Regions from separate parts of the Homo sapiens genome. Here region 2 is linked to region 1. Evidence: fine-mapped expression QTL. Tissue or cell type: whole blood. Region 1 holds a variant in brackets; the other region holds the start of a gene. All regions are shown on one strand. Distances are from middle to middle.

Region 1 (16,213 bases):
AGTTTGAGACCAGCCTGGACAACATGTTGTAACCCCATCTCTACTAAAAATATATTTAAAAAATTAGCTGGGCGTGGTGGTGGGCACCTGTAATCCCAGCTTCTCAGGAGGCTGAGGCAGGAGAATCACTTGAACCTGGGAGGTGGAGGTTGCAGTGAGTGGAGATCACGCCACTGCACTCTAGCCTGGGTGACAATAGAAAGACTCCATCTCAAAAACAAAACAAAACAAAACAAAAAACCACTAAAAGAAAGACTCCATTTCAAAAACAAAACTAAAACCAAAAACACAACACAAATGTAGTATACAAATGAAAATAATTACTGTGTTAAACACAGTTTCATAGAAAATAAAAGACCAATCAAATACAATAAGCTGCCTTTTTAGATGGGTGTTATTCTTCTTTCACAGCTAAAGAAACGGGCTCAGAGAATGTTATTTGATTGGACCGTGTTGCATCTCTGGACAGTGCAGCTGAGATCAGACTTTGTGTGTAACTCCACTAGCCTACCAGGGTGCCTCTCATAAAGGTAAGAAATGTAAATTTGGGCTAATATACAAAGTTGCCAGGGCAGCACTGGGTCAATTCTACATACAGTACTTCTATGTTCATCAAGGGAAACCTTAAGGGAAAGTGAAAATGCTTCTAGAAGGCGACTGGACACCAGCGCCTTTGCTTGTTGCCTTTGGGCTCTTCTTCTAAGGCCAACAGTGACCTGAGATTATTGACTGGCTTTTCCAATCAAGTGGACAAAATGGTACCAAGGTCGCCAACATCAAACAAATTCACTTGAGGGCCTTATCTATGTCCTTTGAAAGACAAAACTGCTTTTGTAAAGGACACTGTATTTCAGAAAAACATAATCATATTAACAAATAATAACACTGTAAAATGCTGATGTATTGAATGCTACTTTAGAAAAACATGCTCAAATCTAGGGAAAAAATTTGATACAAAACTCCGTATCAATTATCTAGCTAGCTAGCTAGCTAGCTAGCTAGAGACATGCTTTCATTCTATTGCTCAGGATGGGAAGCAGTGGGATTATCATAGCTCACTGCAGCCTTGAGCTCCTGGCCTCAAGTGATCCTCCTGCCTCAGCCTCCTAACTAGCTAGGGCCACAGGTGGACACAGTTATGCCTGGGTTTTTGTTTGTTTGTTTTGTAGAGACAGGGTGTCACTACATTGCCCAGGCTGGTGTCAAACTTTGGAGTCTCGCTGTGTCGCCCAGGCTGGGGTGCAGTGGTGCGATCTCGGCCCAATGCAACCTCCGCCTCCCGGGTTCAAGTAATTCTCCTTTATCAGCCTCCTAAGTAGCTGGGACTACAGGCATGCGCCACCACGGCCGGCTAATTTTTGTATTTTTTGTAGAGACTGGGTTTCACCATGGCCAGGCTGGTCTCCAACTCCTGACCTCAGGTGATCCACCCGCCTCGGCCTCCCAAAGTGTTGGGATTACAGGTGTCAGCCACTGAGCCTGGCGGAGCACTTTCTTATGTTATTAAGTAGCCTAACCCAGGTGGGGCGCTGTCCCTCACACCTGTAATCCCGACAACTCTGATGGCCAAGGTGAGAAGATCGCCTCAACTCAGGAGTTCGAAACTGGCCCGGGCAACATAGCGAGCCCCCACCCCACCCCATCTCTAGAAAAAAAATACAAAAATTAGGCCAGGTGCACACCGCGCCCGGCTAATTTTTGTATCTTCTGTAGAGACGGGGTTTCGTCATGTTGCCCAGGCTGGTCTCGAACTCCTGAGCCCAAGCCATCCATCCTCCCGCCTCGGCCTCCCAAAGTGCTGGGATTACAGTAGGGCCCAGCCAGCCTCATGTTTTATTGCACACCTGGATAGTTTTTTAATTTTTTTACACAGGGTTTACCTCAATCTCGCAGGCTGGAATGCTGTGGTGGGATCATAGCTCACTGGAGCCTTGAATCTTTGGGTTCAAGTAGCTGGGGGGCTGAGGTAGGACTACAGAGATGGGGTTGCGCCATGTTGCTAGGCTGCTCTTGGCCTGAAGGGTCCTCCCGCCTCGGCCGCGCCATAGTTTTCTATTTTTGACCAACATAAACACTGTGCTGGGTCTGAATTTTTCAGCTACCCTTCTTCAGCCGGCAACACACAGGACCTGGCGGGGAGGTCGCTCTCACCAGTCCCCACTCTGACGAGAAGACCGCCCAGCTCCAGGCACCGTAGCGCCCCAGTGACGTAGGCGAACACCCGCGCCTCTGACGTCGCCAAAGGCCCACCGCTATGGTGTCGGCGAAGGCGCGCCCTTGTGACGTCACGGAAGGCGCGCCCTTGTGACGTCACGGAAGGCGCGCCCTTGTGACGTCACGGAAGGCGCCCCTTGTGACGTCACGGAAGGCGCGCCCTTGTGACGTCACGGAAGCGCAAGAACCGCTTGAACCCGGGAGGCAGAGGTTGCAGTGAGCTGTGATCGCATCACTGCACTCCAGCCTGGGCCACACAGCAAGACTCTGTGTAAAAAAAATTATTTTAGGCCATCGAACTGTATACCTGAAATTAGCAAATTTTATTATATGTAAATTGTATCTCAATAAAGCTATTTTAAAATTATAAAACTTGGCTGGGCACGGTGGCTCACACCTGTAATCCCAGCACTTTGGGAGGAGAGGCAGGTCGATCACCTGAGGTCAGGAGTTTGAGACCAGCCTGGCCAACATGGTGAAACCCCTTCTCTACTAAAAAATACAAAAATTAGCTAGGCATGGTGGCGCTAGCCTGTAATCCCAGCTACTTGGGAGGCTGAGGCAGGAGAATGGCTTGAACCTGGGAGGCGGAGGTTGCAGAGAGCCGAGATGGCGCCACTGCACTCCAGCCTGGGCAACAGAGCGACACTCTGCCTCAAAAAAAAAAAAAAATTATAAAACTTAAAAAATAATGTTAATGATAACAGAAGTTTGAGAATCAGAGATAAATTGTGTAATGATTTTTAAAAAGGGGGCCCAATTTTTTTACGGTTCAGTTTCTAGAACAGGAGTTATTCACCTGTAAGTCATTTGACGAATAGAGAGATAATTTTTTAGCACTCTTTCCAATTACTAGCATGTGTTTTCTTTGTCCCAAATCATGTTTAACACATCATTTATACTAAAAATACTAATTAAAACAATTATGGCATACTTCTAATAATGTTAAAAGTGAGTAATAATACTTAACCTAAAAGGGTACATTTATAATACTACAGTTTCAAGTTTCAGAAAGCAGAGAGGGAAGGATATTTCAAGACTGGAATATTCCTGCCATTCCTTAAATCACATTCCTCAGCATCTATTCATTTAACAAATATTTATTAAAGACCTGCTACACTCCAAACTCTTTCTATATGCTTCTGATCCATCAATGAGCAGAAAACACAGATATGCATCAATTAGGTTAGTTTGCAGAATCTCAGTGGCTTCTAGCACAATAGTTCATTTCTGACCCATGAGACCTGACAATTACTGGTTAACTACAGCTCTGTGACAGATTGTCATCTTTCTAGGACCCAGCCTGATGGAGTAGCCATTATCTGCAACTCTGAATAAACACATTGTAGTTCAGTCACATTTTGGAATACTATTCAGCAATGAAAAGGAACAAGGTGTCATAAACTCAAAAATGGGTGAACTCAAAAATACTACTGCTAAGTGAAAGAAGTCAGATGCAAAAGGCATTATGGCAGGATAAAGAACATGGTAAACCACACGCTGGCTCCTGTAACTTCTGCCTACAAGTAACAATGCTTTTGCTTCTATGTCAGCAATCAGACCCAGTCACGTAGCCATGTCCAAGGCCAATGGGGTGGGGAAAGGATAATCCTCCTGAGAGGGTCAGAGTATGTATTTGAATAATAGCGCAGTTTACCGGTTACCTGTATATAGTAACATAGAAGGAAATAAGGGTTGTAGAAAAAAAGAATCGGGCGTGCAGGGTTGGAATGCAATGATACGGAGCAGGATGTGGTGTTAGACAGTTCTCAGTTCTTCAAACCCCGAGAAGACTTGAAGGAGGTGAGGGAGTTGGCTAAGCAAAATATGAGGAAAGAGCATTTGAAGAAGATGGAACATCTAGAGCAAAGACCTTGGAGTAAGCGTGCCTGAGATGCCGGAGGAGTGGTAAGGAAGCCGGGGTGGCTGGAGTAGATTAGAAGCACGTAGTAGCTACTCCTCCTACTGGAGGTCATCACAGCAATGGGGTGGGACAAACAAAGAGGACTTTGTCATCGTTGTAAGAACTTTAGTTTTTACACTGAGTGAAATGAGCTAGTACAGGGTTCTGAGCAGAGACTTATTATCTAAGTCACCTGTTGAAAGATCACTCTGGGACGGGCGCAGTGGCTCACGCCTGTAAGCAATCCCAGCACTTCAGGAGGCCGAGGCAGGCAGATCACAAGGTCAAGAGATAGAGACCATCCTGGCCAACATGGTGAAAACCCATCTGTACTAAAACTACAGAAATTAGCTGAGTGCGGTGGCGTGCACCTGTAGTCCCAGCTACTCAGGAGACTGAGGCAGGAGAATCGCTTGAACCTGGGGGGTGGAGGTTGCAGTGAGCCAAGTTTGTGCCACTGCACTCCAGCCTGGCGACAGGTGAGACTCCATCTCAAAAACAAAACAAAACAAAACAAAACAAAAACACCTTGGGCTGTGTACGGTGGCTCACACCTGTAATCCCAACACTTTGGGAGGCCAAGGTGGGCAGATGCCTTGAGTCCAGGAGTTTGAGACCAGCCTAGCAACATGGCAAAACCCTACCTCTACAAAAACTACAAAATAAATAGCTGGGCATGCTGGTGCCTGCCTGTGGTTCCAGCTACTCCAGAGGCTGAGGTGGGAGGATCGTTTGAGACCGGGGAGGTGGAAGTTGCAGTGAGTAGAGATGGTGCCACTGCACTCCAGCCTGGGTGACAGAGGAAGACCCTGTCTAAAAAAAAAAGATAACTCTGGCTATTATATTGGGGACAAAGGGAAGAAGCAGGGAGACCAATTAGGAGGCCATTGCAAGAATCCATGCAAATGTCAACGGTGATTCAGACCAGGGTGACAGCTGTGAGGGTGGTGAGAAGTGGCCAAATTCTGGATATTTTTAAAGGTCAAGTTCATGGCATTTCATGACAAATCGAATGTGGGTGTGAGAGAAAAATAGAGACAACGATGACTGTAAGGATTTTGTTTGTTTGTTTATTTGCTTACTTGGGTAACTGAAAAAACAAAGTTGGCTTAAGGACCTGAAGACGTTTTTCAAAGAAGACACCAAAATGTCCCACAAGTACATGAAAAGATGCGGAACATCATGAACCATCAAGGAAATGCAAATCAATACCACAATGAGACAGCACCTTATACATGTCAGGATGGCTACTATAGAAGACAAGCCATGACAAGGGTTGGTAAGGATGTGGAGAAAAGTGAACACTTCTAAGCTGTTAGTGGAAACATAAACTAGTACCCCATTATGGAAAACAATATGGAGCTGCTTCCTCCAAAAATTACAAATAGAACTACCATGAGATCCACCAATCCCACTTCTGATATATATCCACAGGAAACAACATCAGTATCTCAAAGAAATATCTGCACTCCCGTGTCCATGGCAGCACTATTCACAATAGCCAAGGTGTAGAATCAACCTGTCTGTCAACAGATGAATACAGAAAATGGAGTATATATACACAACAGAATAATATTCAGCCTTAAAAGAAGAAAATCCTATCATTTGACACAACATAGGTGAGCCCAGAGCACAGTATGTTCAGTGAAATAAAGAGTCAGAGAAAGAAATACTGGGTGACCTCACTCATTTGGAATCTAAAAAAGTCAAACTTAGAAGCAGAGATGAGAGGTGTGGTTGCCAGGGGCTGGGGAGTGAGAGAAATGGAGAGAGGTTGGTCAAATGGTACAAACTTTCAGATAGAAGATAAGTTCTGGAAATCTACTGTACAGCATGGTGTCTATGGTTACTGATTATTATATACTTGAGATTTGCTAAGAGAGAGCAGATCTTAAATGTTCTCACCACACACAGACACACACAGAAGGTAATTGTACACCAAAAAGTGTCTGAGACAGGCCTTGATCAATTTAGAGGTTCATGTTGCCAAGGTTGAGGATGCACTGGGAAAAAGAAACACAAGTTCCCATACAATCTGTGGCCCATGTATTTTCCAAAGAGGGTTTTGAAGACTTCAATATTTAAAGGGGAAAGAGCAGCAGGAGGGGAAAAAGGAAAGAAAAGAGTGGGTAGGTAGCCAGATAAGTGGTTATATTCTTGTGAAACTTTCATTAGTGCTTACTGAATTCACATGTTACATGTGAGAGGAGGGTATAGAGGAACAGTCAATTACACATTCTTGTCACGCTCAGTAAATCTGCATTTTACATAAGATAAAAATAGAGTAGAGAAAGAAGTCAAATATGCATTTGTTTTGGGGTGGGCAGAGGGATGATTTCTAGTCTTGTCTTTGTTCCACACCCGTGAAGATAAGCTGTTAGTTATCTTACATTGTCAGGGTGATCTGGTTTGGCTGTGTCCCCATCCTAATCTCATCTTGAATTCCCACACGTTGTGGGAGGGACCTGGTGGAAGGTGATTGAATCATGGGGGCAAGACTTTCCCATGCTATTCTCTTGACAGTGAATAAGTCTCACGAGATCTGATGGTTTTAAAAAGAGGATTTCCCCTGCACAAATTTTCTCTTTGCCTGCTGCCATCCATGTAAGATGTGACTTGTTCCTCCTTGCCTTCGCCATGATTGTGAGGCTTCCCCAGCCACGTGGAACTGTAAGTCCAATTAAACCACTTTCTTTTGTAAATTGCCCAGTCTCGGGTGTGTCTTTATCAGCAGCATGAAAATGAACTAATACACAGGGTGAGGGAAGCCACCTGGAGAGGTATGTGGCCTTCTATCCTGCAGCTGTGAGTCTAGGAACAAAAGGAAAGCAGGTTTTGTTTTTTGTTGTCATTGTTGTTTTTTGCATGACTCAGCTCCCAAACTTAACTTTTCCCTTTGCCATAGGGGGTTTGAGGTCCCAGAGATTTTATTTTCCTTTCACATAACCACAGAAGGCAAGGGACATCTTAACTCACTTGATTATGGTAATCATTTCACAATATATAAACATATCAAATCATCATTGTACCCCTAAAATTTATATAATTGTATTTGTCAGTTATAGCTCAATAAAGCTGGGGGAGAATAGATTTATCAAAAACACATAAAAAAAAAAAAGAATGGCATTGCTGTAACTGAGGTGGGGAAGGCTGCAGGTAGAGTGGGCTTGGTGTAAGATGGGAGATCAGGGGTTGAATTTAGAACATGGTAAGCCTGAAACATCTGTGGGATACACAGGCAGATTCCCAGTGCACCCTGGATGAAGTCGGTCTCAACTCAGGTTCTCCCGTGTCACAGAATGTCCCCTGGAGCCACAGTCAACAGATCCAGGTGGTAACGCCGGCCTTACCACAAAGAAGCTCTGACTGTGGGGAGGTCACTAGTACACTCCATCTCTCCTCATCTGTGTGGTGGGTCAGTAAAACATGCCAACAGAGTTATTCTGAGCATTCTGTGACATAAGTATATGGCAGCGCTTTGCCAGTTAAAACATAGGATAGAAAATGGCCTGGCTGCTGCTGCTGCGGTTCACGGTAATGGTCTCATCCTCTTAGTCAGCCGGCTGCTTTGGGATGAAACACAACAAAAAGCCGATCAGATTTTCCTAGAGTCTCATGATCCCAGGTATCCAGAAACACAATTTGGAAACACTGAAGTTATTTTTCTTCCTTCGATGTGCTAGTTTTTCATTCTAGCCTACTCCACTCTGGGCAAATCCCTGTAGAATTCCTTGAGCAACATGAGCTCTTTCGCTGACTCAGATAAAATTGGACAGTATGTAATGTCCTGTGACCCTTGCCTGGAAGCGATCCCAGCTGGCTGCCAGGGTTGAGTCCGAGACCCTTACGACCAGGCTGACCCTGAGGCCTGGAGACTGCCGAGATCCCTGTTCAATGTCTGGAGAGCAGCGGGCGCAGCTGGTAGCCGGACCCTGCGTGGTTTGGAGCAGCGGGACACTCACTTTGAGACAGACAAACCTAGAAGTGAGCAACCACTTTCCACTTCACTATGTGGCGCATGATGGGTGTTCAGCAACAAATATCAGCCTCCTGTCTTCCCCTGGCACCGCCCCTGGCTTCGGTGAGTGGTCTGTTTCTGCCAACCGTCTCTGATTTTGGAGTCACGGGAATAGAGTACGGAGCCGCACGTGATTCCCTTCCAGATGTCAGTCCCAACACACCCCAAACGCCTTTTCATTTCTCTCACAAAACATTATGACTCTGTCATGCGTGGATTGCCTGGGTTCTTTTTTCAAGCAATTCAGCAGGATGACATAGAGCCTCTTGGTGAGGGGATGCCCATACATTTCCTATTGAAGCACAAAATAATTCTGCCCACTGTTTTATTTAAAAACCACCTAACTCAAGGCTCCAGGGATTTCCTTTCCTCCTGGTAGCCTGGGGTTTGGTGAACTCATCAGGCTCCCCGCACTTTGGGGTGTATTCTTCCTCGGTTTCCCCAGATGTGCAGCCAACAGTTGTAACTAGACAGGTGCAGACATGGCGTGTATATTGATATTGACATTTCTAGCAGGTTATCGCAGGTGTTTGTAAGACAGCCTTAGTTATAAGCTTCTCATTATGATCTTAGAGTCTAAGATAAAAAATATTTTCACGTATTTTTTTGCTTTCTCCAAATCCAGTGAGGGTGAATC[A/G]TGGCTACTTAGAGAATCCAAAGTTGAAAATCGAGATAAATAATGCAGTTTTGGCCAGGCATGGTGGCTCACGCCTGTAATCTCAGCGCTTTGGGAGGCCGAGGAGGGTGGATCACCTGAGGTCAGGAGTTTGAGGCTAGCATGGGCAACATGGTGAGACCCAGTTTCTACCAAAACTATGAACAATTAGCTGGGTGTGGTGGTGCACGCCTGTAATCTCAGCTACTTGGGAGGCTGAGGTGAGAGAATCACCTAAGTGAGCCCAGGGAAGTCAAGACTGCAGTGAGCCATGTTCACACCACGGCACTCCTGTCTGGGTGATGGGAGTGAGACCCTGTCTCAAAAAAAAAAAAAAATGCAGTTTAGGCAACATTTTGTCCTAATGAAGCCCTTGCATCATCATTATCCTTATAACACACACTTTTTTTTTTTTTTTTTGAGACGGAGTCTCACTCTGTCACCTAGGCTGGAGTGCAGTGGCGCAATCTCAGCTCACTGCAAGCTGCGCCTCCCGGGTTCACGCCATTCTCCTGCCTCAGCCTCCCGAGTAGCTGGGACTACAGGCGCCCGCCACCACACCCAGCTAATTTTTTGTATTTTTAGTAGAGACGGGGTTTCACCATTCACAAGATGGTCTCAATCTCCTGACCTCGTGATCCGCCCACATCGGCCTCCCAAAGTGCTGGGATTACAGGCGTGAGCCACCACGCCCGGCCAACACACACTTATAACATAAAATGTAAAAGGGGAAAAATGCCTTCTTTTTGCCTATTTTATTAAGGATGTAATAACCCTAATGGCCTTTCATGAAGAGCATTTTCTCCAAATGCATTGCACTGGGACACTCCCGAGGGACTCTGGAATGGATTTACTGCTTTCTCCGAAAACCAGGACATGGCCTATTTCATATAATATTGTTTGATTCAAACACATAATAATAAAAAATAATAATTTTCAGTGCTAAAAGTCAGCAACCCTGATGTGCGGTTTTGCCCCCTGAGTGACAGGAACAACACACGGATTTGTCTTCTCTTGTGTGACTGAAGAAGGGCAGAGCAGTAGGTTTTCGTTTCACACAACCCAGGAGATTGCCATTTTCTCAGGATCACCTGATGGCACAAAACTTAGGCCCTGGCTCATACCCTTCGTCCATCTCTTACTCTAGCTATTGCTAGAGCAAGCAGCTTCGAGCAGATGAAACCTCCCAGCACCTCCCCTCTGCTGCAGCATATCTCTTGCATTTTGACACCACAGCATGGAACACCTGCCACAATCGGCCCAGCACTCACACAAGCATCATCCCAACGCACAAGAGAATTCATGCCCCAAGAACACCCCTTGGAGAATCGGAGCTGGAAATTGATGAATAAAGGTTCCCTCCCTCTTTCAGGCGCACAGGCCGTCCATTCTGAAGTCACTCCGTGGCTCATTAGGAGCCCCTGCGCAGTCATGCCTCAGCTGCCTCCAGGAGTGAACAAGCTGAGATTGCACTCCCATTTGCCTTCCTTCCTTCCCTGTGTCACTCTTCCCAATCCCTCTATCTTGTTTTCTGGGAACACTTTCCCAAATTAGAAAATTCTGGAGGCCAATTAAGGCAATAAGCCAGGGAAATATGTTATGTAACCGTGTGATGAACTCACAAGAGATACTTGGGGACTTGGAGAAGTCCATTCCCTGTATCTAGGCGAGACCACAGCTAAGTCATTGACCAAAGGAACTTTGTATTAAAACAAACAAACAAACAAACAAAAAACTTAGAAAAATGGAATTCCAAAATCACCATTAGTAATTCTATTAGGTATTCAGATATTCATTGACTATAAATGTTCCTGAATGCAAAGCAGGAGATACAGAGGTCTGAATGTTGGATGTAAGAACTCGTGTATGTAATTGCATGAGCCAAAGAACAAGCTTAATGGATCTGGGTTCTGTGATTTTGCTCTTTTCGGAAGTGCTAGCTCAGTTTCAGAAAAGAAGTTCAGCGTCATTTTTTTCTTTTTACATTTATCTCCACCAAGTTTATGAGAAGTTGATCCAATGATTTACTCTCCTTGATCAGAAATACCAGAAATTCACTCTCAATTTCAGTCCTTTAACTGATTGGCATTCTTTAAACATAATGAACGGGAAAAGGAAATATATCTTAAAACAGTTTTTAAAAATGTGAAACAATTCAGGCATACAAAAGACACAGAAAATGATAAATTGTGTGGTATACCACCAAGATAAAACAGCTGTTAATATTTTATCTTATTTGCTTCAAACCCATCTTTTCAGTAAACATGCTATTTACTTAATAAACAAAATATTACAGTCCAGCTACTGCCTCACCCAGTGTGCATCATCCTCTCTTTCCCTCCATCCCTGGATATAACTCTATTCAAAATTCGTGTGTATGGGCTGGGCACAGTGGCTCACATCTGTAATCCCAGCACTTTAGGAGGTCAAGGCAGGTGGATCACTTGAGGTCAGGAGATCGAGACCAGCATGGCCAACATGGTGAAACTCCATCTCTACTAAAAATAAAAAATTAGCTGGGCATGGTGGCGAGTGCGTCTAATCCCAGCTACTCGAGATGCTAAGGCAGGAGAATCGTTTGAACATGGGAGGCAGAGGTTGCAGTGAGCCGAGATTGTGCCACTGCACTCCAGCCTGGGCAACAGGGCGAGACTCCATCTCAAAAAAAAAAAAAAATTAGTGTATATCATCCCCACATCTGCTTTCTTACTTCTTCTACATAAATATACATCCATAAACAATATAAATTAGTCCTCTGCATTCTAGTTTTTGTTGCTGTTAAGAAGTCTAGTTGAAGTTCTTGGTAAATAACCTTTCAATCACCTGACTTAATACTGTAAACAGAGAAGCAGATTTTTATTAATGTCTCATCAAAAGTAAGTTTTTCACCAGGAATATGCTTGTGAATGCAACATAAACATTTATAAATGTACCATTCATCAGTTTTCTTTCCTGATGGGAATAGTGAAAGAAAATAGAATTCATCAGAACTCCTGTGCCTCTTTGGCACAAACTTATAGCAATACGATAAATAGCAAGTACACCTATGTGTGAAGTCTTACCATAAAAAACAAACTTGATCAACTGCGCCGGAGGAAAGACTGAGTATCTTTCTCTTCTCTCCATGGAAAATGATATTACAAAATTGTCGTCACATGTTGGGGCCAGCAAAGAGAATATAGCCAGATGATACAGGAAATGACATTTCTCAAAAGAAGACATACAAATGGCCAATAGGTATATGAAAAAAAAAAAGTTCAACATCACTAATCAAAGAAATGCAAAGTAAAACCACAATAATATATCACCACATACCTGTTAGAATGGCTATTATCAAAAAGACGAAAGATAGCAAGTGTTGGAGAGGATGTGGAGATGATTTATATTTATAAGTTTGTATAGTTATTTATATTTCAATACTATTGCTGGAAATATAAATGACTACAGCCCTTATGCAAAACAGTATGGGGATACTTTGAAAAATTCAAAATAGAACTGCCATGCTACAGTAATCCCACTACTGGGTATCTATCCAAAGGAAGTGAAATCAGTACGTTGAAGAGACATCTGCACTCCCATGTTCATTGCAGCACTATTCACAATAGCCAAGATATGGAAGCATCCTAAGTGTCCAGCAGCAGATGAGTGGATAAAGACAATGTGGGATGTACGGCATATATACACAGTGGAATGCTATTCATCCTTAAAAAAAGGAAATTCCGTCATTTGTGACAACATGGATGAACCTGGAGGATATTATGCTAAGTCAGATAAGCCAAGCACAAAAAGACAAATACTGCATGATCTCATTTATGTGTTGTAACCAAACCCAGGTTCAGGTACTCACCAAAAGTCAAACATGAGATACAAGAGTTGGTGGGACAGGCCGGGTGTGGTGGCTCACGCCTGTAATCCCAGCACTTTGGGAGGCTGAGGCAGGTGGATCACTTGAGGTCAGGAGTTCGAGACCAGCCTGACCAACATGATGAAACCCCGTCTCTACTAAAAATACAAAATTAGTCAGGCGTGGTTGCACGTGCCTGTAATCCCAGATGCTTGGGGGGCTGAGGCAGAAGAATTGCTTGAACCTGGGAGGTGGAGGTTGCAGCAAGCCAAGAGATCAGATCTTGCCATTGCACTCCAGCCTGGGCAACAACAAGAGCTAAACTCCATCTCGAAAAAAAAAAGTGTTGGTGGGACAAAAGCCAGGTTTGTTCAGAGAGCCAGTAAACCAAGAAGATAATAGCATCCTAAAGTGCCACCTTAAGTCAGGATAAATTTCAGTCTCTTTTTATGTTAAGAGCAGAAGGAAGAGGAGGGGCATGGGATCAATAGGTGACTGTTGACCACAGACATCTGGGTGCCAGTAAGGGCCCTAGAAGGTGGGGAAAGTCTTAGCTTTTGGTCAGGTCACAATGCTCCTATAAATCTTTTTATTTTTTATTTTTTATTGTTAATAGGATCTTGGTCTGTCACTCAGGTTGGAATGCAGGGGCATGATCATGGCTCACTGCAGCCTCAAGTTCCTGGGCTCAAGCATCCTCCTGCCTCAGTCCCAGTGGCCGGGACTATAGGTACACGCCACCATGTGTGGCTAATTTTTCCATTTTTTTGTAAATATGGGGTCTCACTATGTTGCCCAGACTGGTCTTGAACTCCTGGACTCAAGTGATCCTCCCACCCAAAGTGCTGGGAGTATAGGTGTGAGCCACTGTGCTCCACTCCTATAAATCTTTAACAAAATGTAGTTTACATACTTCTCCTTTAATCTCAGATGGCTGTTTTTGTGTTTTATCTCGTGCTCTAAAATTATCCTAGCCTATATGCTGGAATGGGTGAAGGCCCCTTAAACAATAATGGAGTTAGTTATGTTCTTTTGCTGTTTCACTGTTATACAATGTGAAATCTAAAAATGTCGATTGCATGGAAACAGAGAGTAGAGTGGTGGTTACCAGAGGCTGGGTGGCTGGGGAGATGTTGGTTAACGGATGCAAAATTTCAGTGAAATAGAAGAAATAAGTTCAAGAGGTCTATTGTAAAACATGGTGACTCTGGTTAATAACAATATATTGAGCTGGGCGTGGTGGCTCACACCTGTAATCCCAGCACTTTGGGAGGCTGATGCGGGCAGATCACCTGAGGTCAGGAGCTCGAGACCAACCTGTCCAACATGGCAAAACTGGGTCTCTACTGAAAAAAAAAAATACGAAAATTATCCAGGCATGATGGCACGTGTCTGTAATCCCAGTTACTTGGGAGGCCGAGGCAAGAGAATCGCTTGAACTTGGGAAGTGGAGGTTGTATTGAGCAGAGATCGGGCCATTACACTCCAGACTGGGTGACAGAGTAAGACTGCGTCTCAAAAAAAAAAAAAAAAAAAAAAAAAAAAAAAAAAAAAAAGCCAACATAATTGTATTCTTAAAAATTGCTAAGAGTAGATTTTAAATGTTTGAACTACAAAAACATGAAAAGTATGTGAGGTAAGGCATATGTTAATTAGCTCAATTTAATAACCATTCTACAATATACACATATTTCAAAACAACATGTTGCCAACAATATACAGAATTTTGTCAATTGAAAATAAAATTTTTTAAATCCAGGAAAAATTGTAGAGATTTATTTTTCCTGGATTTGGTGATCTTGTGGCTTTTCTCCCCCCAGCTTTTTGAAACTTTTGGTTTGTTGTGACTTCTAGTCTCTAAATATTCACTTTACTGCCAAATTTTGTATTCATACTTTTGTATTCTTTGTCTTTTAAATGGCTTCCTAAATGGTATACATCATCAGGCCCTCAAAATGTGCTCCACCTGCTTTGAACCACAAAACCCCTGGGGACCCTAATCCAAACAGCTTCCACCCTCCCCAGCACTCTCTCGCTTGCTGTGCAGGCTTTCTGTGAATGCTCCAGGCACGCAAAGGAAGGAAGCCAAATGCTCCAAGCTGCTCGATGTCTGACTCCTGGAGCCGCAGCTCCCATGACTTTGTAAAGGGCATGCACCCTGCAGGGCATGTGCCCCAAGCACCAGGGGTTCCTCCTACTCTCTTTGCTTTCGAAAATGAGGCAGCAGGAAGTGATGGAGAGCGCTGTGGTCATCAAATGTGGATGAAGTTAAAATTTGTTAACCAAATGCAAACACTTCGGGGAGTGAAAGTGGGGCACTATTCATTTTTTTTTAAAGTCAGGCTCTCACTCTTGCCTCAGCTGGAATGTAATGATGTGATCAGGGCTCATTGCAGACTGGACCTCCCAGCTCAGGTGATTCTCCCACTTCAGCCTCCTAAGTAGCTGGGACTACAAGTGTGTAACAACATACCCAGCTAATTTTTTTGTATTTTTTGTAGACACGGGTTTTCACCATGTTGCCCAGGCTAGTCTCAAACTCCTAGACTCAAGTGATCTGGATGCCTAGACCCCCCGCAAAATGTTGGTGTTAGTGGTGTGAGCCACCTTGCCTGGCCTCCATTTGCAAGATTGTCCCAAAGGAAGTGACCTTGGCTGAAACCCTGGCTCTGCTTCCTCTGGCCTTGGGGCGAGAAGTAAATAACCAAATCTGCCTGGGCTTGTTTCCTCACCCCAGAAAATGGCAGTAAGAGCTGCCTCACAGACCAGGTACGGTGGTGCACGTCTGTAATCCCAGCAATTTGGGAGGCCAAGGCATGAGGATTGCTTGAGCTCCAGAGTTTGAGACCAGCCTGGGCAACATAGTGAGACCCCACCTCTACAAAAATCAAATTAGATGGGCATGGTGTTTTATGCCTGTAGTCCCAGCTGCTTGGTAGCTGAGGTGAGAGGATTATTTGAGCCCAGGAAGGTGGAGGCTACAGTGAGCTATGATCACCCCACTGCACTCCAGCCTGGGTGGCAGAGCCAGATCCTGCCTCTGAAGAAAAAGAAAAAAAGAAAAAAGAAAAAGAACTACATCAGTATTTTGTTAAAGGTTAAGGTTAGATTACCTAGATATAGGCTCTGTTTCTCTCCACATATATCTGTATATCTATCTATACACACACGTATATATTTAGAGTTATGTATATATATGCAGAGAGAGGTATAGCTATAGATAGATCTATATAAATATATATAAACAGCTATCTCTCTTTACATATGCATATATATATTTATGTATCAATCCACAATACAGAAACTTGGATATGCACAAAATATCACATTTTCTCTAAACCAGCTGAATTTTTATTTCAAACTCCCCTTCACAGCAGACTGGGAAGATGCTTGAATTCAATCTTTTCGAGGTATCCCACTGCCCCCTCCGAGATATGCTACAAACTCCCACACGGTGTCAAGCTCTGCACAGGAGTTACCTTGGAGAGCCTGTTGTCCCGGGAGCCTGACCCGTGAGTCCTAGGGGTCCCTGCTGCTTCCATGTGGACATCAGGCCAAGGGGCCTCTTTCCCAGGCTGC
Region 2 (17,180 bases), 150 kb after region 1:
AGCTTCCTGATAAATTCTTCCTATGAAACAGCATCGCTTCTCCTGTTCAAACATCAGAGGCAGCAGCAGCTGCCATACTCATCCACGTAGGAAACAGCATTGGCCTCTTTATGAGTAAAACTTTGTTCAGGGCTTTAGATTTAGTAGTTGCCAGGGGAGAATAACTGTGAACATTCATGTTGATAAACCAGATTTAAAAAAGGAAATTGCTTTCTCAGAGACCATTCAGAAAGAAAGAGGATACTGCCTGATTTCTTATGAAGTATTTAGGTGATTAAAGGTGATACAGGGGACTGATCACTCCTTATCTCTAAAAATACTTCCTTTACTTGGCTTGTGGGACAACACACTCTTCAGTTTCCTCACACCCCACTGTCCACTTTTCAATCCTCCTCGATGGCGCCTTCTCTTTTGCTCAGCTTTCCATGTGGAAAGTACCAATTCTCAATTCTTGGATCTCTTCTCAGTCTAACTCCCTAGCCAAGAGATCCCTTTAAGTCTACTGGTGATGCTTAACATTTAACTATCCTCAGTCCAAACCTCTCCTCTGAATGCTTGACTTACATATCTAACTGCCTACCTGATGTGTCCACTTGGGCGTTTAACAGACACTTCAAACTTAACATATCCAAAACATTTGACTCTCTAAAGCCAGAAACTAGTAACTTTCACTATTGCCACTACTGTCGCTCTAGTCTAAGCCATTAATGTCTCTTAAACCAGATCATTCCAATCATTTCCTAGCTTATCTCATGGTTCCCAGTGTTTTAAAGAATTCCCAGAGCCATTCTTTAAAAATATAACCCAATTTTTTGGCTTTGCTCAAAATCCTCCAATGAATGCTCATAGCACTTAAAATCAATGAATAAAATCTCTATGCAACCTCATTTCCTCCTATAAGCACCTTTTCCTCACTCACCTTCAGCCACAGTGTTCTCCAAATTCACTTATCCCATTCCTGCCTCAGAACCACCGCACCTGAGTAGAATACTCTCCACTCAGATACCTACAAGATGCTTCCTTACCTAATGCAAGTTCTCTGCTAAATGTCACCTCAGAAAGAGGGATTCCCTAACCACTCTAAGATAGTTCTCAAGGTGTAGCATAGTGGATAAAGAGGCTATTTTTTTGTGTCATAGAGGGGACACAAAATATGTATTTATATTTGCTTGAGGTGAAGAAAAATTCATGGCCAGGCGTGGTGGTTCATGCCTGTAATACTAGAACTTTGGGAGGCTGAGGAAAGAGGATCACTTAAGCTCAGGAATTCAAGACCAGCCTTGGCAACATAGTGAGACCTCATCTCTACAAAAAATTAGCTGGGCATGGTGGCGCACACTTGTAGTCCCAGCTACTCAACAGGCTGAGGTGGGAGTATTGCTTAAGCCCAGCGGGTCAAGGCTGCAATGAGCTGGGATCCTGCCCCTGTACCCCATCCTGGGCGACAGAACAAGACTCTGTCTCAAAATAAATAAATAAATAAATAAATAAATAAATAAATAAAGTTCATTGAAGAATACATAAGAAATAATAAAAATAGCTACTTACTGGATTGGCAAAAGTGGTAACTCAGCAGATAAGATGTAGGGTGAAAAGGTTTTTCATATTATTTCTTTTCAAAATATTATTTGAAAACTACCTGAATGAACACTTGAAAACAAATGTAAAACAGCAGTCCTCTACCACTGTCTCTTTACCTTGATTAATTTTTCTTCATAGCATCTATCCTTACTTGACTTTACATCGTAAAAGAATTATCCATATCCTCCAGTATATTGTAAACTTCATCTAATTCCTTTACTGCTGGAGGATATAATGGTTTTCTCTTTAATTTAAAAAACAAAACAAGGCCAGGCGCCATGGCTCACACCTGTAATCCCAGCACTTTCAGAGGCCTAGGCAGTGGACCATGAGGTCAGGAGATCAAGATCATCCTGGCCAACATGGTGAAACCCTGTCTTTACTAAAATACAAAAAATTAGCCGGGCGTGCCTGTAGTCCCGGCTACTCGGGAGGCCGAGGCAGGGGAATAGCTTGAATCCAGGAGGCAGACGTTGTAGTAAGCCGAGACTGAGCCACTGCACTCCAGCCTGGCGAGAGAGCAAGACTCCGTCTCAAAAAAACAAAAACAAAAACAAACAAAAAGGCCCCAAAAACAAACAAACAAAAAAAACCCATCCGAATGGTTTTCATTATTTTTGTGTCACCTTTCCTCCCAGCATCTTTTATTTATGTAACATTCATTCTATTTATAAATGTGCATGGCTTTGTCCTTGGCTATATTAAGTATATGGCCAGGATGGAGACATAAGAGTTTGGCTTGTTGAATTTATAAATGTCAAAAAGCCAGGAAGGAAAGCTAATCCCTTGGATGACAGAATCATGATTCAAGAAGATCTCAAGTTTTAACTATAGCTACGTTCACGGAGATGAAATTTAATAGGAGGCAATGGTAAAATACTGGTTTAAAAACATCACCTGTGTGTTTATACACAATGGGAGAAATCTAGCTAAGTGTAAAAATGTTGGTTTATGTTGACTACATCAGTGGTTTCCAGACCAATTTTTCAGAAAACAAATTAAGAATCAACATAAGGCTGCCAACTTTTTATTGGTTAATCAGGAACACTAAAATAAAACAAAACCCCATGACCAACATCAAAAGAAACTTAACCTATCATTACTTAATAGGTGTTACTAACACTATCATTTAATAAAGGCCATTTATGAACATTAGAAAAGGAGAACAAAATCTCAAAAAATAGTACCTTGAATTACATAAATATAACTTGAAAAGCCATGTAACATTTCTCTCTCTCTCTCTGCTTTTTGCTTTGAATTAGCAGAGATGACTGTTGTTAAAGAGTTGATACAATTTTAGACTTTAAACACAAGTGTATGGCTTGAAATAAGGAAAGGGACAATTTCACTGCACTTTGCATTCAGACCATAACTGCAGAATTAAATATGGAAACAAGATCAGAACACAAAGAATAGCACTGACAAAACTGATTGAATCCAGCTGAGAGATGTGAGGGATGGCAAAGGAAACCATATGAAGTTGGAGGTGTCCTAACATTTAGACAAGAGAAAATCTAGCTAATATATTGAGAAAAACCTTACTTCATCTTACTCCTAAAGACTGAATTGCAACCAGTGGGAAGAAGTTATATAGTAAAAGCAGCTACTAGCTCAATTTAAGTGAGATCTTCCTATTACACTTTTTGGAAGCTAAACAGGCTTTCCTATGCCCAGGGAAGGGTTTGTGGAGAAGTTGGACCCAATAACATCTCAGAGATATTAGTAGTGGGTGATACATTGTATGAGCTGACTTCTAAAGTTCCCTTGAATTCTAAAATTTTATGAACCAGAGTAAGGAAATAAGTGGTACCCTTTAACTTACTAAAAAAGATGAGTAGAAAGAATTTTGGCTTTAGCCAAAAAGACAAAGGTTCAATTATAGGCCCTATCACTTAGGAATGTGTAACGCAGAGGCAAAGTTATTCACTAACTCTATGCTTCAAATTTTTTCAATGTGTAAAAATAATACCTTAATTTAGAAGTTTGTTGCAGAAATTAAATACACACACACCACACACACATAAACTTCCTGGCACCTAGGAAATGTTCAAAATTTGGTAGGTATTATTCAACGATTCAATAAATATTGTGTTTCAAAGGGTAATATTTTCTATATCATTTATTACTTATGGATATACTTAAAAAATGACTTGTTCTCTGCTATGTGTCATTTGTTTTTCAGACCTCAACAATGCATGCTTGGGATTCTTTTCCACTTCTATACTTTCTGCAATTCCTGTTTGTATGTAAGTAGATTTTATGAGGTTTTCTTTAACTTTGCTTTTGCTGTTTTGTTTTTCCACCTTTATTTGATATAAAAGTGGGCTTTAACAGCAACACACATTGGCTATGTCACTGGCTTTGGCTAAAACATTTCTGCTAAACTGGACAATATATCCAGTTTAATCAACCACACTACCAGACAGATGTTTTTTATCTCTCACAATGGCTAACTCACTGCTGAACACTCCTTTATGAAATTTTTGAGTAAGTAAATAAAAACCTAGGGTATCTGATTAGAAATTTTGGTTATTAATGAAATAAAGATATTTCTTCCCATCAAAAGTATCCCATTTCTTAATGAAACAGATCAACACTGAATGCTCCAGTCAATACTATCTACTCACCAAGCATTCTTCAAATGGCACGTAACTGCTCTTTTGTTATACTTCCAGAATAATTTGCAACTGTACAGATACTTTAGTTAGCAATTAAATATCAGGTTGTCTGTCAGATACTTAGTTGAAGAGTACACTGCTTAACATCCCAGTGTTTGGGACAGATAAGAAAGAAAAGTCTTTACCTATTAATTAGTATAGAAAAAATATTTTTCAGGAATACAATTTTGTGGAATAAAAAACATTTTGACAAAAAAGCTTAAGCATATACAATATTTAGTACTAGATGAGCATTATCTAATTGCAATCAGATACAATAATAAAACTAGTTCTTTTTTTCAGTAGATAAAAAGGAACAAGAAACTGATACTTGGAACAAATCAAATAAATCACGAAGCACAGAATTTTAAAAAGTACCATAACAGCATTAATATGCAGAATGTATGCTAAGGTTTACAGTATAAATTTCACTATTCTAATGTTAAAATAGGGAACAGGCAGATTATTTCCATACAAAATAATCTCAGAACACAATGAAATTTACCAGTAAAATACATTTAAAGCATGATTGAATATAATCCCACATACTGAAATTTAGTTACAGATTTTTAAAGTTGAAATTTAAGATAAATAATAAATCCTTTAAAGAAGTCTATTAAAATGCAACGTAAAATTAAACGATTAAAATTATAAGGGAAGAAAAAAGCACTTTATGGCAAAATCAACCCAATAAAAAACATAAAGTTAATATATCTTAAAATGTAAATTCTAGTTTAAGTTAAAAGTAATCACTAATAACTCATTAATGATTACAACTCATTAACTGTGGCAAAATAAACATCATAGGTTCTTGTTATGCGGAAATTTTATTTTTAACACAGCCTATAGAGTTGATCATCATACTATTATAAAATACTATTGATTTTCAAGAAATAATATTAAAACCTACCGTTAAGTAGCTACCATTAGGTAGTAGGGAAAACACTGCAACACTTCGTTTTTATGAAAAGCACATGTTAGGACATCTTTCCTCATGTAGTAAGTTACTTTATGAAAGTAAAGGTCCATTTTAGGAGGATTACTACTTTTACATCACAAAGGCAAGAACTAGATTAATCACGGTGAGAATCAAGTTCAGTGATAGTCACAGCCTACTCAGGGAGCACATAGAGAAGCTTTCCATACATTTTCACAAGGTAAAAGGGCTAGGGGGACACAGGAAAGATCACTCTGCAGAATGGACCTTGAGTTTCGTTTGGCTCTGCCTTCGATTAACTGTCTGGCTTGGGCAGACAAGTCAGTTAACTTTCTGAGTTTTAGTGTCTTCCTCTGTCAAGTGCACTTGGGCTCTTCCGTGTTATCTACAAAGTTAGGAAGAGCTAAAGGCAGCCCTAGTTTTACTTTTTAAAAAATAATAACAGAAAAATACATAAGTTGCTATTCATCAGTGTACTGTTTCCAGAGCTGAATTCCTAAGTCTCTGAAGCATACCCAGTTAGGGTTATACCAGTGAAGATCCAGATACTATAGTCATAATGTCACTCTCTCCTCTCCCATTATTCCTCCACCTGCTCCTCCCCATCCTGCTTTATTCTCTCTTCTGGTGTGTTTTAAGAAGCAACGCCAGCAAACGGCTGCATACATTGTAAGCTTAAGGATTAAATCATTTTAAAATATGCATTTTCAATCAAATGTATCATCTGCTTCGCCAAATTCCTCCCAAATGGCTGAATTTTCATTAAGAGAATAAAAATGAGTTAACAACTTCGGTAACAGAAATGTACTGGGCCAGTTGTTTTGTTTGTTTTACTTGCTTAAAAAATAAACGGAAAGATGTATCCATTCCCTCAGGAACATAAATGCATTACCTGCCCAATGAAAAAACAATTCTGCTTGTTCATTTCCCTGACACAACAGCTTCGTTGTCAGGCCCTCTCTAGCCCAGGCTCCAACGTCACCTAGTAATTTTATATTGATCACCTTGGCAGTGCTTGGACTCCAGCAGGCATAGTCCCTGTCTTCCTTACATTCCTCAAAATAAATAAATAAATAAATAAATAAATAAATAAAACTCTACGAAACACCACCGAACAGAGATTCTGTGACTTAGTATACAAATCCCACGTCTTCCCGCCCTGTGTTAGGCAGCTGCAAATGTTATTTTTTCATCGCTTGCATAAAATGGAAGCGAAACGTACCAAAACCCTACATCTGAATCCTAGGACAATGAAGCCGACAGGAAGCCACTCTCTCCTCCCCCGGGTTTACTACAGAGCCAGAGCCTCCACGGGGTGCAGTCGCCAGGCAGGGTGCATGACACCGCGTCTTCCACGCCCTCCCAACGCGTCCAAAAGGTTGCTCGCCTGACCTCGCCAACCGCCTCACACCCCAAAACCAATCACACAAAAGGGATTGGCCCGGGGAGCTGCTCCAATGGGGGAAAAATCCCTTCCCCAGCGGCAGCGCAGCCATTCCCTCCAATGCTCCGCCCGCACCCCTCGCAAACTGCTACGGCGGAGGGGGGAGGGCTGCACAAAGCCAGTCGAAAGCTGAAAATGATTCAATGCACTTAGGGGATGCGGAGGCGGCAGCAAGGGGCTCGGGAAAGCCGGGGGGCCGCAGGACTGGAGCTCCGGGGGGCGGCGGGTGGGGGATGGGAAGGGTGGTCCCGTCAAGCCCCGGGTCCCAGGCGGGCAGAGGGTGGGGGTGGCGGCGCCGCGCGGAGCACCCGGGAAGCGCCCCCTTCGCGGTCCAGCCCCGCACCCCCGCCCCGCGGCGGGCGGCGCCCGAGTCCTCGCCGCAAACCCGAGGAGCAGGATGTGGAAAGCAGCCGCGGCGGTGGCTGCGGCTGCGGCGCCTACACCGAGCAGCCGATCGCATCACTTACCCCTTACCGTGGAGAGAGGGACCGGACGGGGGAGGCGGGGCGCGTCGCGTCCCGTGAGTCTCTCGCACGCCGTCCTCCCCCCACCTCGTCGTCGTCGTCGTCGCCGCTGTTGTCGTCGCTGCCGCTGCGGTCGAGCTCCGGGGCCCTCAGCTCCGCTGGGCAATAACGTTATTCCACACACGCCCCACACATAGCGGTAACGGCAAAGACCGACTGCCTAGTGCGCAGGCGCCTCGGGAAAGGGCGAGGAGCCGGACCCTATCCCCTCCTGCCCAGTTCCAACGATCCCTTACTGCGCAGGCGCCACACACAGACAATGAAAAGGGGTTGTGCGAGGGTCTCACCCACACGCTTTTCCAGCTTGCCCACTGCGCAGGCGTGCCCCGAAAGACCAGCTTGAACAATGAAGAGGACCTCGGCGTTAGGTGGGACCGCAACCAACAAGGACTACAGTTCCCAGCGGGCAGAGCGCCAACTCCAAGTGAAGGTCCGGTTGCTGGGCATGCTAGGAGTTGTAGTGTCGGCCGCCTTTACAATCTAGGCTGTTTGGAAGATTTAGAGCTTCTATTTCTTGAAGATTTATTCGACCGTTTTAAAAAATCTCGCAACTGAAGCAGGGTTCAGAGTTTACTATCTGCGTCCTTGAGTAGCCTGGGGATCAACTGCTGCATATTAGCAAATTTCGAAGCGTCAAGGCCTTCAGTGAGCCCTTTCTGTCATTTGGGTGGTCCAGGCAGCTGAAGAGTGGGATGGAGGCGGGACTAAACCAGGCTGGGCTGGAGGAAAAGGGCGGGGCCTGCAAGCCTGTCTCTTGGCAGCAGGCTCTGGCAGCCAAACCGTCCAAGCTAGCGCCTGGAGCGCAGTGGTTTCTGGGAATTGTAGTGTAACTGGAAGGCCCTGAGGATTGTCGAGCTTGCAGGTTCTGAACGTGAGGACTACAACTCCCGACGTGCAAAGCGAGGGCCAGTGGGTGGGAAGAGCCCCCAAGAGCTCTGTGCGGGATTCTAGGCTCCCCTGTGACAGCCGCGGCAGGAAGCAGGCGGGCGCTCCCCGGCCACAGGCCTGTTGTTCTCGGAAGGGAGAAAGCTGGACATTTCCCCACGTAACTCCCAGCTCTGGGCCTAGAGTGCGTGCATGGCGAAGTCCCCGGAGAACTCTACCCTGGAGGAGATTCTGGGGCAGTATCAACGGAGTCTCCGGGGTGAGTTGCTCCAAACCTCTGTCCCTAGCCCCGAGGTGCCCAGGGCCTAGTGGGCGGGAGCAGACCAGGTGCGTTTCCTAACACCTGGGTTCTGCCCCGTCCACGCTACAGAGGAGCAAGATGGATGTTGCTGTGGTCTTGAGGAGGATGAAATAGTTTGATTTAGTTTTTACAGTTAAGCAACGATGTTTCCTCAGATTCCCGTAGTTACCTCAATCAACTCCTTGATCTTAACTTGGCATCTTTCTCAACCGGCGACAGCAGAAACTCTTGGATAGCTCTATGCCATTTTTGTTCAGTTCCCATACGTTGCTATTTAATCCAATAAAAGTCTGATTCACAGTTTTTACACATTTAAATTATGGCACAGTGGATTGAATGTGATTTATGGGATCAGTGGGGGGAAACACTAATAATTATTTTAATCACAAGAGCCCCCTTTTAATTGATTTAGGCTATTTACATACAGTAAATCATCTGCAGCTTACACCAATCGTGTGAATATTTTACACATGGGGAAAGCGAAGCTCAGAGAGGTTGAATTACAGGCCAGAGCCCACACAGCTGGTTAGTTGCAGAGCCAGGTATTATCAGGCTTGCCTTCAAAGCCTATGTTTGTATTTACTAATCAAGCCATAATTACTATTATCAAAACCTTATTAATTTAGATTTTCTTACCACATTACCATATGAGCAAGTATCTGTACAAATAATGTCTGTATTTATTTTCCTTTAAGCTCTGTTGGACTTAATGTCTGTACTTTTAGATGGCGCTGTCAACTTGGACAGCATATATAACATCTAGAAATTTCGATTCTGTTATAATGGAAGTTATGGAATTGTCCATAGGGTTATTGTGGGGAGCAAATGAAATAATCCCCATAAAGCAGTGATTTTAAGACTTCTTAAAATGTTTACCTATAGTAAGAAATAAATTTTATATGGGACATATGTGTACATATAAACTATAAGTTTCACTGAAGAATTTTTATTCTACTAAATGTAATAAACTCTGCTTTCTATTCTGTTGCATTTTCATAAGCCTCTAGGTCATGACTGTTTGCGACATTGAGAATACTAAGTTATGAAGCATGTGTTGTTCTGCATAATATGCCTACTATGTGTCAGTGCCTCCTACTATGTGTTAAGCATACTAGGTGCTAGGCATGCAGTAAGGAACAAGACAAAGTTCCTATCCCCATGGAGCTTCTGGATTAGTTGGGGAGAAAGACAAAAAAAAAAAATAATTATAGATTACTATGATAGAAAGTAAGGGTAAAGATCAGTGCTTACTAGACAAGCACTCATTAAATGTTAATTGTTATTTATACTTGTTACTTAAAGCAAAGTGAAGGTTTTTCAATATTAGAAAGTTTATCTTCTCATGACTCTAGATTTTATAAGGGTTACTATGTATTGTTACATCTGTCAATTGTGTTAACAAACTGTCGACATTCTCAGTATTCAAACTGCAGGAGTAAAAAAATCGGTTTTAATGAACACCTTCCTCAACCTACTGATGTTTCAAGAGCTGTTAGATACAAAATAAGCACTTCTAACTTTTCATTTGGAAGCAAGAAAAATACTGTGCACAATGATATGAGTAATTGTAATTTTTAAGATTGGCAAAAATTTTTTGTTTTCATTGAAAGTTTTTCCTGATGCTTCTCTTCCTTTGACCTTATTTTAAGTCTTTATATAATTGTCGGAGGCTGTTTAACATTAGGCATTTTGACGCAGTAAAGGGGTTCATTTTAAATTAATGTTATAGTAATATGTTTAATACTAGTGGTACTGCTTTCAATAATTACAGAATGAAGGGTTTTCATTTAAGGATAATACATTTTAAAATTAGTTTGAAATAAAATTTAAATTTAGTGTGATAACAATATAAGGTAGTGGAAACATTTCACCAAGAGCAAATACGAAGGATAGAAAAAGTTAAACAACTTAAAAAAAAACGTATTCATAATTTTAACAGTGAATCAGGAAATGTAACCTGAAATGTTTATGGGTTTTTCAGGACATATCATTTATTTAGTAGCACTTTTATTTTTGTATGTTAGCTTATATAACAGCTTCTGGAAGGAAACAAAACAGAATTAACTCTGAACTTAAGTACAGTCAGAAGTTCTTCACAAATATAAATTGCTATTTTTGAGTAGTATAATTTATTTATTTAGAGATGGAGTCTCACTCTGTCATCCAGGCTGAAATGCAGTGGTGCCATCTCGGCTCACTGCAGCCTCTGCCTCCTGGATTCAAGCAACTCTCCAGCCTCAGCCTCCCAAGTAGCTGGGATTACAGGCACGCGCCACCATGCCCGGCTAATTTTTGTATTTTTAGTAGAGACTGGGTTTCGCCATGTTGGTCAGGCTGCTCTAGAACTCCTGACCTTAAGTGATCCGCCCACTTCAGCCTCCCAAAGTCTGGGGTTATAGGCGTGAGCCACCGCGCCCGGCTGATAATTCCCTTTAAAGTAAAGTATTCTGTTCCTTAATAAACAATGCTGGAGTTATGTGGAAATTCCTTATTTTGAGTGTGCCTAATAATTTAAGAATTGTATTACTATGTAGTAAGATAAAATGCAGTTTAAAGTTCTATGTCTTATTTTGTTTTGGTTTTGTTGGTTTGTTTGGTTTTGTCTACCCACCATTACTTCCCCAAATGCCTTGCGTAGTTTATGATTAATGGAAGCCTAATAAACAGTCTTGGTCTTTCCTCACCGGTTTTTCCTCTAGCTTGTAAATAACTGCACATGTAGTCACTACTAATATCCCTTCATTGATATTCAGCCAGGAAGTGGCCGCATAAAAATGCAAAATGCTTTCCCTATTTTCCGTGATCGTACTTCCATTTTAAAAAGATCTTTTCCTGGGGCCGGGCGTGGTGGCTCACGCCTGTAATCCCAGCACTTTGGGAGGCTGGGGCGGGCGGATCACGAGGTCAGGAGATGGGAGACCAGCCTGGCTAACACGGTGAAACCCCGTCTGTACTAAAAAAAAAAATACAAAAAACTAGCCGGGCGTGGTGGCGGGCGCCTGTAGTCCCAGCTACTCAGGAGGCTGAGGCAGGAGAATGGCATGAACCCAGGAGGTGGAGCTTGCAGTGAGCCGAGATCGCGCCACTGCACTCCAGCCTGGGCGACAGAGCGAGACTCTGTCTCAAAAAACAACAAAAACAAAAACAAAAACAAATTTCCTTATTTCTTTAATGTTGGTACTATTATGGTATATCAAAATTTGAAGTTCTAATGTGAAAACTGAGTCAGCATTTACTTTCTTGTTTTTAAAATGAGGTTGGGCGCGGTGGCTCACGCCTGTAATCCCAGCACTTTGGGAGGCCGAGGCGGGCAGATCACCTGACGTCTGGAGTTCGAGAACAGCCTGAGCAATATGGAGAAACCCTGTCTCTACTAAAAATACAAAATGAGCCAGGCGTGGTGGCAGGCGCGTGTAACCCCAGCTACTCGGGAGGCTGAGGCAGGAGAATTGCTTGAGCCTGGGAGGCGCAGGTTGCGGTGGGCGGAGGTTGCAGTGTGCTGAGATCGCGCCACTGCACTCCAGCCTGGGTAACAAGAGTGAAATCCTATCTCCAAAACAAACAAACAAAAAAAGATATTTTCCTCATTTCTTTAATTTTGGTACTATTATGGTATATCAATAATTTGAAGTTGTAATGTGAAAACTGAGTCAGCGTTTACTTTCTTGCTTTTAAAATGAGATCCTTGCCTCATTTTGACCTTGATGATCTTGGAGCAGCTCCACATTCACCTTTCATCCATTCCCTTACACTTTTCAGTGGATTTGCTGTTTGACTTCTCTAAAGATATCTCTTGCTTTGGGTCGCCTATGCCCTTTTACAAGAAATTGGAGACATTTAATGATTCTTCTTCAAAACGAGAGTTCTGGCAGAAAAACCGGAAGGCTTTGTTGCCCCCACAGATCTGTTGTATTATTCCTACATAGTAAATGGTCTGAAAGTTTCCAGTGTGGTTAAAAGTGTATGTGTCCTGGGTATCCTGGGAACCACAGAATTTAATCTAGAACTGGAAGTGATTTGGGAGGTCTCTTGGCAGTAAGGTTAGGTGTTCATTTACTCTATGGGTAGTTATAATTCAACAACCACAGAATGGCCGAGAACTACATTTGTAAGTGGGCAAGATAGCACATGCGCCTTCTCTAAATTCAATACATCGTTGTATAAAGCCAAGAGGTATGAAATGAACTATTTCATAGCCAAGAAAGGGTGAAAAAAGCCACAATTATAGGCAATCCAGGCTCTATTTTAAGTACTGCACACTTGAGTGTAAGGGGATATCAGAAAGGAGAAAAATTGCTAGAAATGCAGTATTTTAGCCTTAATAACAGAATCATGTCTCATCTCTTGCTGCAGCGTTGGGAATAGATAACAATTTTATCAACAACACCTGTATACATGACTCACCTATTCACCTCATTCCTAGCCACCTTTGGTTGGGTGAGTATAAGGAAAAATGAAACAAACTTCTTGTATGACAGGAACTCATGATTTTCTATATACATTTTGCATTCTGGTTTTACCTTTTTCTGTCAACATTTTGGTGTTTCAGCCTTTAGATGAATTTATGGGAAGAGTGTGGTGGGGTCAGAGGAGAGAATGTGGAGCTGGGAGCCAGGTCACTGCACTTACTTTTGCTTTGCTGACAACCATCTGGGTAACCTTAGGCAAGTGAAACACACTGTTCTTGGATTCCCGTTTCCTCAACTGTAAAACGAAAAGTTTGGACTGGATGTGAGAATTATTGCCTTTAGGTGCCAAGCAAATGATCAAAAGGTATGATGGAGTCAGTGGAAGACATTAAGGGAAATGATGAGGCTTATGGCCAAATTGGGCAGTTTCTGCTTTTTCTAAAAACATTTCAATTTCTTCCTTGCTCCCTCCCTCTTTGCTTCCTTTTTTTTCTTCTCTCTTTTTCCCTCTTTTCCTCCCTCTTTTCTTCCAAGAAGGAAGCCAAGCAAAACACACCCAGAGCCTGATTCCCCTTTAGACACCACTCTCTGACCCTTTGATCATTAATGTTCCTTCCATCAGCACTTGTTTGGACCAGATGAATGATTAAGGGCTATGTTTTTGTCTTATGGAAATGAGAGTAAGGAGTTGAACCAGGTACACAGAAAGTGAGAGGATGAATATGAGAAGAAAATATATAATCTCAGGGATGGGCCTTGTCTTTACGAATTGATGTAGTTCAAGAAAACCAAAGATAAGGTTGACTTTCTATGTTTTGCTTGTATATGATTAGCACATCTATCCAAATCCTGCAAAGTGGCTCACAATTGTAGAAGGGCTGTGTTAGTCTTACTAGCCAACAATTTGGTCAGTGTATTAGCCAGCAGTGATATCATCTGGCTGTCTTAAGAAAACATATGTGTAACTCAAATAAGTATTCCTGTTTTCTTATAAAACTTGTATTTCTTTTTTGCTTTTCTCAAATATTTTCTGGATTTTTAAATATTGTTTGCCATATGCACTATATAGGAATATACACACATAAACATGAGGGGTTTTTTGCTGATAAAATTCAAATTATACATATTCATCTTTTGTTTTATATATTCATGTGGCTTTTCTTTTTCTTTTTTTTTTTTTTTTAATCTCAGCTCACTGCAACTTCCACCTCCCAGGTTTAAGCGATTCTCCTGCCTCAGCCTCCCGAGTAGCTGGGTTACAGGCACGTGCCAACACACCTGGCTAATTTTGTATTTTTAGTAGAGACGGGGTTTCTCCATATTGGTCAGGCTGGTCTCAAACTCCCAACCTCAGGTGATCTGCCTGCCTTGGCCTCCCAAAGTGCTGGGATTACAGGCATGAGCCACGGTGCCCGACTTTTTTTTTTTCTTTTGAGACAGGGTCTTATTCTTTTGCCCAGGCTGGAGTGCAGTGATGTGATCTTGGCTCACTGCAACTTCTGCCTCCTGAGTTCAAGCGATTCTCCTGCCTCAGCCTCCCGAGTAGCTGTGATTACAGGTGCCACCACCACGCCCGGCTAATTTTTTTATTTTTAGTAGAGGCAGGGTTTCACCATGTTGCCCAGGCTGGTCTCGAACTCCTGGCCTCAAGTGATCCACCTGCCTTGGCCTCCCAAAGTGCTGGGATTACAGGCATGAGCCATTGTGCCTGGCCTCATGTGGCTCTTCTTAGTGCCTTTAACTTTTATGATCTTTTATTTTACTAGAACTTAAAAGTACAATCTCAATTTTTCTTTCCTACTACTGATGAGATAAAATTGGCAAAAGACAGGATTTAGCAACCAGAAAAGAAATGAGTGTTCTACAAGTAAATAGTCATCCCTGGAATAATCTAAATCAAAGGTATGTTTCAGTGTTAGGAGATTGTAGGGGTACTTTTTCATGTTCTTTGTCAGAAATAGGTATAGAGTAAGTTTTTTTCAAACTATTGAGATACTGAGAGTAATAATATTCTCTCCTGGGATGTTTAAAGACTTATGGTCTGATCACATTGCCAGTTTGTGCTAAGATTTTCACCATTTTACTTGATGATAACTCTTCTCAGAGTCCAAAAGTAGACAAGGTAGCTAGAAATGCCCTTGTGCACTGGCTGAAGCAATCCTGATGATGGCGGAACTTCATCAAAGCCCACTGGATACTTAAAGGGATGGCCTTAGGGCAAATATTGCTTTTAGGCCCTGAAACAAAATAAAGCTAAATATGAATCTGAGCTCTTGCTTCTGATAGATATAACACCTATTCCTGACACCTGGATCAGATGTGTCCCATCATGGCACTGTCGGTCTCAGGCTGTGTCCTCCCCACCAGCACTCCTGTGGCAGAATAGCTCACTGTCACGCTCATTTTCCATCAAGAGGCGGCAACACTTACAATGTAATGTGGTCAGAGTGATAGCAAGTCTCCCCTCAACACTGAAAACTCTTGTTTTATTGATCTCGTTTTATTGACTTGAAAACTGTCTTGTTTTATTGATTTTTTTTTATTGTCACAATTGGGGGTGGAGATGAGTGCTGCTGGCCTCTGGTAGGCAGAAGCCAGGGATGCTATTAAACTGGCACAACACAGCCCCTTCCAAAAGAGAATTATCAGGTCCAAACTGTCAATAGTGCTGAGGTTGAGAAATCACGATCTAGAAGTACAGGCTTTGCTTGTAGCCCTTGATCTGCAAGAATCCTACTTTACAGTAATTACAAGTAAGGATATACAGATTGTATTTGCTGGTGATTTTACCTATGTTCTTTGCCAGCCTGGCTAGGTTTACTTCTTTTATCAGTGGAAAGTGACAGGTGCATCAGTCCTCTCCACTGATGCCAAAGAAATACCAGGTGTATCCCTTAGAATGCATATAGCCAATCTCCTGGATTTGCCAACACCCACATATCTTTAATGGTCTTCCAGACATTGCTTTCTTAAGATGTTTACATTCTTTATCAGATTATCTTTTACTCCTGGCGCCAACCACTTTAGCATGTTTTCAGTTATTAGAGTCTTAGGATAGTATTTTCTTTGAGATTCAAACAAAAAAGTATTCTACATAGTACTTGTAATCTCTTTCACAATTGTAATTGCCTTTCACAAAGCCGACATTGTCTGATTTTTTGATTCTGCTGTTTATATCTTGGTAGTGTTACCTGTTGGTCCCCTAGTAAACAGTGACAGCAATCTTCTGAACCAGGCTGAGGCCCAGTCAAGTGTAGATAGACATGTATTTCTTATCTCACTGTGGTTTTATTTTTCTGCATGTCTGCCCTAATCAAAGCTTGTGCTGGGAGCTGCAGTGCATCTCATATCTCGGCCTCGGGAGGAATGGTTCATTGCATATTCTCTCAGAGACAGCTGGGCGCTTCGCAGGGAGTGGTCCCCCTCCCTGTCACCAGGGCAATTCTCTTTCACATCTCCCAGGACAGATGGAGAATGAAGAAATTAATAATTCATAGTGTGTATTTAAGTGGTGATTCTTCCTAGACTGAGACATACTTGCATTTTGTTCAAAAACATCTTGATGAAGACAGGCCCAGTGGTGACCTAAGAGTTAGAACATAGGAAGTAGGGAAACTCTTACTAAGAAAATGGACAATACAGGCCAGGCAGGGTGGCTCACGCCTGTAATCCCAGCACTTTGGGAGGCTGAGGCGGAAGGATCACCTGAGGTCGAGGGTTTGAGACCAGCCTGACCAACATGGAGAAACCCTGTCTCTACCAAAAATACAAAATTACCCAGGTGTGGTGGTGCATGCCTGTAATCCCAGCTACTCAGGAGGCTGAGGCAGGAGAATTGCTTGAACCTGGGAGGCGGAGGTTGCAGTGAGCCGAGATTGCACCATTGCACTCCAGCCTGGGCAACCAGAGCGAAAACTCCATCTCAAAAAAAAAAGAAGAAAGAAAATGGACAAGACAGACTGAAATTAGCTAGCAGCCATTAGCTCAGGTACCTTTTAAGTGCTCATTGTACTGATTGATGTTTGGATAGTGCATTAGCAGAAATATTATCTACTTGCACTTACGTTCATGTGATCTGTAGGACTCAGGGGTCCTGTTTGTGTCTGTAGTCATAGTTAAGTTTATAGTCAGTTCCTGGTTGGTGCTGGGGAAAAGAAATCAGGATGCATTCATTGTGAAATACCCTTACTGTCCTCTCAGGAGAGAAGAGGAAATGAGTGTGTTCTCTCTCTTGGTTAGAAACAGATAAAGCTGTGTCCCATTAGCAGTTGGATAGGAAACGGTAACTGGAACCTTCTGTCTAATCTGGTTTCCTTAAATGTAAGGAGCAGATAACTGCATCTGGGGAGTAGTGCTCTTAATAAGGATTATGGGGGCTTCAGTTGCAATGGCTCCAGTTGAAGAGCCATGGGATTTCATCTGTCCTGAATCATCTGAGTGTT

What was found. PIP is the estimated chance that this variant, and not a neighbour inherited with it, causes the effect.
Region 2: it holds the start of SDCCAG8, and the variant in region 1 is the best candidate, but not a certain one, in a credible set for the expression of SDCCAG8 in whole blood (TOPMed, PIP 0.55).

What each region holds. Positions count from the first base shown.
Region 1 is chr1:243,099,506-243,115,718 of GRCh38, forward strand. It overlaps LINC01347 (long intergenic non-protein coding RNA 1347), which reads right to left and starts at 2,239. Exons shown (of 18, transcript NR_029401.1): 1 at 1,881-2,239. RefSeq lists an enhancer at 14,288-15,039. The variant A/G (reference allele first, on the strand shown) is at 8,773.
Region 2 is chr1:243,247,954-243,265,133 of GRCh38, forward strand. SDCCAG8 (SHH signaling and ciliogenesis regulator SDCCAG8) reads left to right here and starts at 8,088. Exons shown (of 18, transcript NM_006642.5): 1 at 8,088-8,287. The coding sequence starts at 8,221. CEP170 (centrosomal protein 170) reads right to left here and starts at 7,328. Exons shown (of 20, transcript NM_014812.3): 1 at 7,087-7,328.